Regions from separate parts of the Homo sapiens genome. Here region 1 is linked to region 2. Evidence: fine-mapped expression QTL. A gene starts in region 2. The other region holds a variant in brackets. All regions are shown on one strand. Distances are from middle to middle.

The links. PIP is the estimated chance that this variant, and not a neighbour inherited with it, causes the effect. A credible set is the group of variants that fine-mapping cannot tell apart.
Region 1: its variant is the best candidate, but not a certain one, in a credible set for the expression of ELF4 in whole blood (TOPMed, PIP 0.53).

The regions. Positions count from the first base shown.
Region 1 is chrX:130,213,144-130,217,530 of GRCh38, reverse strand. ZNF280C (zinc finger protein 280C) reads left to right here. Exons shown (of 19, transcript NM_017666.5): 14 at 1,430-1,740; 15 at 2,198-2,338. Among named protein-coding and RNA genes, the nearest start is that of RAB33A, 43 kb to the right of the region's middle. The variant A/C (reference allele first, on the strand shown) is at 1,885.
Region 2 is chrX:130,107,937-130,112,323 of GRCh38, reverse strand. ELF4 (E74 like ETS transcription factor 4) reads left to right here and starts at 1,827. Exons shown (of 9, transcript NM_001421.4): 1 at 1,827-1,999. It also overlaps a transcript of RAB33A not described here. RefSeq lists silencers at 1,096-1,215, 1,286-1,335, 1,346-1,395, 1,646-1,795, 1,876-1,945.

The DNA.
Region 1 (4,387 bases), 110 kb before region 2:
TGGGCAAACATCACTACAATAAATTTTAAAACATTTTTATCACCCTCAAAAGAAACCTCATACCCTTTAGCATTCACTATTTCCCCTCCATTAGACCTGTGCAAACTTTAGTCTGCTTTTAGTGTCTATGGATTTTCCTATTCTGGACGTTTCATATAAATTGAGTCATACAATATGCCATCTTTAGGGACTGGTTTCTTTCGCTTAGCATAATGTTTTGTAGGTTCATTGATATTGTACCATGTTTCAGTACTTCATTCTTTTTTGTGGCTGAGTAATACTCCACTGTATAGATATTCTACATTTTATCCTTTCATCTATTGGTGGGCATATGGGTTGTTTCCTCTTTTTGGCTATAATGGTGCTGTAAAAATTCATGTACAGGTTTTTGTGTGAACGTATGTTTTCATTTCTCATGGGTATATACCTCTGAGTAGAATGGCTGAGTCAAATGGTAACTCTTACCTTTAATATTTTAAGAAACTGCCAAACTGTTTTTCTTTTTTTGTTCTTTTGTTTTGTTTTGTTTTTGAGACGGAGTCTTGCCGTGTTGCCCAGGCTGGAGTGCAGTGGTGCGATCTTGGCACACTGCAACCTCCGCCTCCTGGGTTCAAGCAATTTTCCTGCCTCAGCCTCCCGAGTAGCTGGGATTACAGGTACCTGCCACCATGCCTGGCTAATTTTTTGTATTTTTAAAAGAAATGGAGTTTCACCATGTTGGCCAGGCTGGTCTCAAACTCCTTACCTCAAGTGATCCGCCCACCTCGGCCTCCCAAAGTTCAGGGAGTACAGGCCTAAGCCACCACACCCAGCCTGCCAAACTGTTTTTCATTGTAACTACACTGTTGTGCATTCCCACCAGCAATGTATGAGGGTTCGCATTTCTCTATGTCCTAGCCAATACTTGTTATTGTCTGTTTATTATAGCCATTCTGGTTGGTGAAGGGACATCTCATTTGGGATTTCATTTGCATTTCCCTGGTGACTAATGACGTGGACCATCTCTTTGTGTGCTTATTGGCCGTTTGTATATCTTCTTTGAAGAAATGCCTATTCATCTATTTTCTCTTTGGTTGCTTGTGCTTTTGGTGTCATATATAAGAAACCGTTGCCTAACTCATGCTCACAAGAATTTACTACTGTATTTTCTTCTAAGAGTTTTATAGTTTTACCTTTTAGAATTTGGTCTTTAATACATTTTGAGATAATTTTTGTATATAATATGAGGTAAGGGTTCAAATTCATTCTTTTGCACATGGATATCAGTTTTTGTAGCAGCATTCATCAAGACTATTTTTTGCCCCATTGGAAATGTTTTGGGACCCTTGCCAGTTTACCGTAAATGTGATATTTACGGCTTACAATGATATTTTTAATACTAATGCGATGGTTACTTTTCTAAAAATATGTATTGGCTTTGTTTTTATAGGTTACTATTCGAGCTTCACTTGGACCTCTCCAGTCAAAATTACCAACTGCACCTTTCGGTTGCGCTCCAGGCACTTCTTTTCTTCAGGTCACACCTCCGACATCTCAAAATACAACTGCTAGAAATCCTAGAAAATCTAATGCCAGTAGATCTAAGACAAGTAAGCTTCATGCAACTACATCCACTGCAAGTAAAGTTAATACAAGTAAGCCAAGGGGACGTATAGCTAAGTCCAAAGCAAAACCCTCTTACAAGCAAAAGCGACAGCGCAACAGAAAAAATAAAATGAGCCTTGCTTTGAAGAACATAAGGTAATATCTTTTATTCCTGATATACAATACAAATTTAATCTTATGTATATAATTTATCATATCATAAAACCCTCTTACACATTTACATGATAATCACTTATCTGGCATAAAGACCAAGCAAATGAGAAAAAGGTACTTTTTACA[A/C]CTGCTGAGCAGAACTTGAGTCATTGTGTTTATTCTCTAATTTTCATCTTTTACACTAAACTTATATTTTGTGCTTTTATCTTATGATAGATTAATTGGTTTATTTGATCCCTTTTATTCCAGGGAAATGTTAACTGGTGTTAAATTTTTTACACTTACTCTAGCTTGTTTCAAAGCAAATTTTGAAATTATGAGTCTACTTAAAGATACCAATTTAAACATTTTGGCTTCAGTTAATAAAATGTTAATAAGATTTTCCCCTGTTATTTTTGTTTTATAATCTCTTTTTATCTTTTTTTTCCGTCTCCATAAGGTGTCGTCGGGGAATTCACAAGTGCATTGAATGTCATTCCAAAATAAAAGATTTTGCAAGCCACTTTTCTATATACATCCACTGCAGTTTTTGCAAGTACAATACTAACTGTAACAAAGCCTTTGTAAATCATATGATGAGGTAAGTTAAACATGTAAACTGCCAATCAGAATTTCCATTTGGGTCATTTGTTTTTTGAAAACAGAGTTATCCTATTGAAAGCAAGTTTGTCTCATCAAGGAACTAAAAGGGTCTAGCAATAGGGAACTTCTAAGATGTTCCTTGTACTATTTTCCAGCATAGTAACTCATAAAATTACTGGGACAAAAACTCTGAGAACAATTAGACTAATGAAATTAAAATGAGTTTGTTAGGGAAATTTGTTTTTTCTATGGGACTTTTTTTTCTTTTATGTCTTTCAAAAAGTGGTTATTTTTTAACATAAAATGTTAAGTGTTTTCAATATATTTATCAAATAAATATGATCAGCTCTTGCATTCCACATCTGTGGATTCAACCAACTGTAGATAAAAGTGTTTTTAAAAAATTAGGTCTTTACTGAACATGTGCAAACCTTTTTCCCATTATTCTCTAAACAATACAGTATAAAACTATGTAATAGCAGTTACATTGTATTAGGTATCATAGGTTCACAAATCTAGAGATGATTTAAAGTATACAGCAGGATATGTATAGTTTATGTGCAAGTACTATGCCATTTTATATCAGAGACTTGAGTCTCTGCAGATTTGGATACCTGCAGGAGGTCCTAGAACCAATCCCCCATGGATACAGGGACCCCTGTATATGTAATTTCCTGAGTGTTATCCTCTTCACAGCGATCACTTTGAGAGGTTCCAGGCTTTTTAATGATGCTAAGAACATTATCCTGTCTCTGTCTCCCGCATCTGTCTGTCCATTTGTCTTTATGATCATCCATCTTTGCATTCATTCAATGAAACATAAGAGACTGTAGGAATATTCCAGTCATGATGCTACCGTTAGAATTCCTTTTCATGCATTGATTCAACTTAATTTGAGCACCTATGGTCTACTCTACACAAGGGAAAGACTTCAGAGCCCCCCTTACTTTCATTTGAACCTCATTCACAGGGGCTTGCTTTATTCCTTCAGATTGGATTTTATTTTAAATAACCAAAAAGTTTCCAGATATAAGTTCATTATTCTAATTAAGATAGTTCCATTTATTTTCAGTTAGAAATAAGATACAACTAGCCAGGCACAATGGCTCATGCCTGTGATCCCAACACTTTAAGAGGCCAAGGAGGGAGGATTGCTTGAGCCTAGGAGTTCAAGACCAGCCTGGGCAACATAGCAAGACCTCATTTCTATTTTTTAAAAAAGAAATAGGTATAACCAATAAAAGTTGTTTTCTTGCAGATTATAACAAGACCTCTATATTATTTTCTGCTCATAATCAGCTACCACTTTGAAGGATTCACCCACGTTTTTTGATGGCTTCAGCACCTGGCTTGCAGGGATTTTTTTCCCTTTGGTGGTCAGCCTGACCTTATGATACCTTTACTTCTTTAGTGCTAGCACTTTACATCCCTTTCTGCTTTGTTGTATCCCCTTTCTTAACACCATCCCATTTTACCTCATTGTAGACAATACTTATTTTGAATTCTCATTACCCCATGACTTTCAGAGTCTTGACCCCTTTTTCTAGTCCAGTAGTATCAATTCAATTTTGTAGCCAACCATGCCCTCAAGGTCTTCTGTTTTGAATGCTGCTTTGTTTCTGTCCTAAAATCCTTTATATCTTCAGGCATGCTTAGTCTTGCTATCTTTGCATCTTTTATCCTTTTTGATGTATCCCTATGCTCAGTTCTAGACTACCACACCATGCTTGATTCAATCAGCTCTGAATTCATGATCTTTAATTTGGTCCTGCCCTTTTAAAAATACCGCTTTGTTTTTGTTTCGTTTTGTTTTGTTTTGAGATGGAGTCTTGCTCTGTCACCCAGGCTGGAGTGCAGTGGCATGATCTCGGCTCACTGCAAGCTCCGCCTCCCGGGTTCATGCCATTCTGCTGCCTCAGCCTCCCCAGCAGCTGGGACTACAGGCACACGCCACCACGCCCGGCTAATTTTTATTTTTATTTTTATTTTTTTTGTATCTGTAGTAGAGACGGGGTTTCACCATGTTAGCCAGGATGGTCTCGATCTC
Region 2 (4,387 bases):
GGGGACCTCGTGGATGAGAGGCCAGCAGAGAACTGTGTGTCTCCAGGATCTGGAATCCCCTGGGAAAAGCATGCCCGCTTGGAAAAGACAAAGTGCTTGTTTTGGGGACTTGATTCTGAGTATCCAGGAGGTCTCAGGGGCCGGCGCCCCAGTCCAGCCACAGGATCTTTCCTTGGGAACTTGTAATCTGCAGCTGCCTTTGTGGCCATCATCCACCACCACTCCTGTCCCCCAGTCCTGCGCCTGAGATGATCCTTTCCCAAGGCAGGAGAAGCAGGCCGATGCTGGAGGCTGAGTAGGTCCTTCAACCTCAAGCCCTTTAGAAGGCCCCATCCCCTGGGGCTCCTTCAGTCTTGATGCTTTCTGCCAAGGCTTAGGCCTTGCTGCCCCCACCCCCAAAAAGGCCACGTGGAACTATACAGAGTAACAATTCCCAGCGCACTCTCTCCAGAGCCTCCTATCAGCAGACCCACGTAGGCGGCGGTATTGATGTTGAGGCAGGTCAGAGAGGGCAAAGGGGAGATAGAAGGGGAGCGTGCCTGAGTGGCTTTCAAGTGGGCGCGTGGAGCAGAGCAGCCTGGCTTTGGACAGGGGAAGAAAGGTAGGCATGGGCTTTCTTCCAGCACCCGAACTCTGGCTCTCTTTGCACTTGCTGGGCCAGCCCCTCTCCCCCTAGCCCTTCCCCTGACTCATATCTTGCCAGCGTCCCCCACCCCAACTTCCCGCAGGAGTCCTAGACTCGACTTCCCTAAGAAGTCGCCGAAACTCTCCAGTCACCCCAGGTGTTACGCCCAGGATTCTGCGGAGTCGGGCATATGGTTCCAAAATTGTATCCTCTGGGCATCTCGCGGCCTCACCCGCCGCACGGCCCGCCCTCCCGCTGGGGCCTGCACACCCCAGGAGCTCAATAATGTGGAGCGCAGGGCTTGGCCCAAAGGCGTCAAGCAAGTCTCCACTTGCACGGGCCGAGGGGGCTGGACGAAACCTTCCCGAGTCCGCGGGGAAGGGATTTCTCTGCGGGGCGTTGTATGGGGGCTTCGCACCGGGAAGGGCGCGGAACGAGCAGAGAGCTCGGAGTCTCGCTGGCTAGAAGCAGAGTGGGGAGCGCCCGCCCGGGCCGCGGCGCACGACGCGGGCTCTGCGGGCGCCCTGCCTCGTGGTCCCCCGGGCGCGAGCGAGCCGCGAGGGGAATGAGAGGCCGCGCGGGCCCCTGGCACGGCTCCCCATGCCGTGCTGGCGACCGCGGCGGGCGGGCCGGGGCGGACGGGCGCTGTTTCCACCGAGATGCCTCGTCCCTCCCTCGTTCCCTCCCCCACCCCGCCCGCCCGCAGTCCCTCCCGTCGGTCCCTCCCTCCGGCTCTTCCCTCCCTCCCGCCCTGCCTCCTTCGCGCCCGCCCCATCCGCCGCCTGCGGGGACGTGTGTGTCTCTACTGCATTTCCCCTTTCGCTCGCTCGTTTCGGTGCATGTCTGCGCCGGTTCGCGCCCCCTCCCCGGGCGCCCCTGCCGCCCCGTGTCTTGGCCCGGCCCTCCCCGGCGTCCGCCCCGCTCCCCGCGCGCTCCACCCCGCCCCCCGCCCCGTTTTATCAGGGGCGCCGCCGTCTCACCTGGTATTTGCATCTCTCCCTCCAACTTGCCATTGGCGGCGCGAAGTGTGGGAGAGCCCTGCGCCTCGCCCGCCCGGACCAGCCTGCCCCGGCGCCGAGGTGAGTCACGGGCGCGGGGTGGCGGGGGCAGGCGGGCGGGGAAGAAGGGCGGGCGGGGAGGAGGGCGGGGGACGGCGGCCCCGGCGGCCGCGGGGACCGACCGGGCGCCGCGCTCAACTTCCACTTCTCCTTTCGCCGGCGCCGAGTTCCTGGCGCCGCTCGCCCGGCCCGGCTTCCGAGGGGAGAGGACGGGCTGGCGGGGCTGGGGACCCGCGTCTCGGCCCCCGGAGCGGGGACCACGGAGACAGACCCCGGCCCGGCGACCGAGCTGGGCCCGTGAGCCACTCGGCCTCAGGTACGTCGATGGCGCCGGTTCTTCGAGCCTTGGGGGACGTGGAAAAGTTTGCTTGAGGGCGGAATCGAGAGCGCCGGGGCCCCGGCGTGGGGCTGGGGGCCCAGGGAAGGGCGGGAGAGTCGCGGAGTGTCGCGAGCCGCCCTGGAGTCGCCCCGCCGCGCGTGTGATGGAGAACCCGGGCTCCCGATCCCGGGATGGAAGTGGAATGGATTCCCCGAGTCGGGGAGTCGGGGTAGGGGCCCCTGTTTTCCCTCGCCCCCGGCAGCCTGGGTTCCGTGACGGGGCCGATCATGACAGCGGGCCCCCAGAAGCTGGGCGCCCGAGGGCAGAGGAGGTGGGGCGGACCGCGGCGGAGCTGCTAGATGGATCCGACTGCCCCCGGGGCTTCTGGGGCCAGGGCTTTAGGGTCACACGCACACACGCGCACGCAGACCTATGATGTGGAGAACTGGATCGCCAAAATAGAGACCTCTTGGCAGGGGCCGGAGTTTCCGTGTGAGCCAGCCGCCAGCCTTCCCGCTCCCGCGTTCCCGCTCTCCCCGACTCTCCCGCCTCCGGGTTCCCTCCTGGGCCGCCGCCTAGGGGATTCAGCAGCCGCACCGTGCGGGGTCCCCTCACGCCAGCGCCTTGCTTTGGAGGCTTGAGGGACTGCTGAGGCGGTGACCGCTTTATGAATTCCTGGCTCCTCCACCGCACCCTAACCCTGACTCCCTTTTCTCACCACCGTATGCCTGCACATCACCTTCCTGACCAGAGTCACCTCCTGACCCCTTGGCACCTCGGCTCAGCGAGGTCCTCCTGGGCCGCCCCCGCCCCGCACCATACCCCAGCTGAGGGATTTGATGGCCATTTGATTCCTGCCCCTCATCCCTCGGCCTGTGATAGAGGCCTGTCTGGTCCTGCAGCCTCTTCTGGTTAATGTTTGACAGTTCATTGTGGCTAATTATTTTAATTAGCTCTTAAAGTGGGAAAGAACAGTTAACCTTGGACTTCTCGATTTTGGCCTGGTGGGGCCTCAAATGGGAGGAGTGCTGGGGAGGTGGGGAGGTAGGAGCGGAAGTGAGGTCACCACCCCAGGGCCTGAACCACCACTGCTCAGCCCCAACAGCTGGTGGGCACGCCCATTGGGGACTCACCCCCTGCCAGCTGACCCCTGGCCCGAGTGCCAGGTTGGAGGTGGGTGAAGGGAACAGTTCTAGCTCTTCCCTTTGGGGAGACTTTGGCACTGAAAATGCCCGGGGAACACATATGCCCAGCAAGAATGCCAGTCCTTCCTTGCAGTTAGTTACACTGGGTTTTCCTGGTTATAAAGTGCTTTCTCAACCATTAATTCAGATTCAGTGCATCCAGTACAGGAGCAGCGTAGGGGGAGCTCTCTGGAGTTCAGTGAAGATTATCAGGGAGGACTTCCTATCCCAGCCAGCTGGTGTGAGGAAGAGGCTACCTTGCATCTGGTTGTTTTTGGGGCTGGATTCAGAGCCTGGGATCTCTTGTTGGGGGCAGGGGTGGGGGGGACCATGAAGCAGGCTCCATGCTACCACCCTCACCCAGCCTCTTGCTGTGAGCCGAAGGAGTGGCTTGTTTGCAACTATGTCTGGCATTCCTCCCTGTGCTGCACTGTTTGCTCGGTGGTTGCTCAGGAACTGGCGCCCACCCCTGGACAACCTAGGGGCCCAAAATTCACTCTCCCTCACCTAGTGCTAAGTGGTGACACAGTGGCTTCTGTCTTCTCTGGCATATATTGGGATCTAAAATAGAGGGTGCTGTGGTCTGTCTCTAGGGGCCTGAGTGATAGCATGTCCAAAATGCCCCTCATCTTGCAAAAATCAGGCCCTGTGCCGCACAGACCCAGCTAGACACAGGCTGAGGAGTTTGCTTTCCTGGGGAAACCTCTGCTCTTCTGCTCTTAAGCTTGGCCTTCTTCCTTTCCACATCCCCTACCCCCGCAATGTAATTTTACATCCAGTTTTTGTTTTTGCGTTTAGAGTGTTGTTTTTTTTTTGGTTTTTGTTTTTTAATTCAGGGTCTCACTTTGTCACCCAGGCTGGAGTGCAGTGGCACAGTCACAGCTCACTGTAATCTTGAACTCCTTACCTCCAGTTCTTTTTTTTTTTTTGAGATGGAGTTTCACTCTTGTTGCCCAGGCTGGAGTGCAATGGCACGATCTTGGCTCGCCGCAACCTCCGCCTCCCAGGTTCAAGTGATTCTCCTGCCTCAGCCTCCCGAGTAGCTGGGATTACAGGCATGTACCACCACGCCCGGCTAATTTTGTATTTTTGGTAGAGACGGGGTTTCTCCGTGTTGGTCAGGCTGGCCTCGAACTCCTGACCTCAGGTGATCCACCCGCCTCCGCCTCCCAAAGTGCTGGATTATAGGCGTGAGCCACTG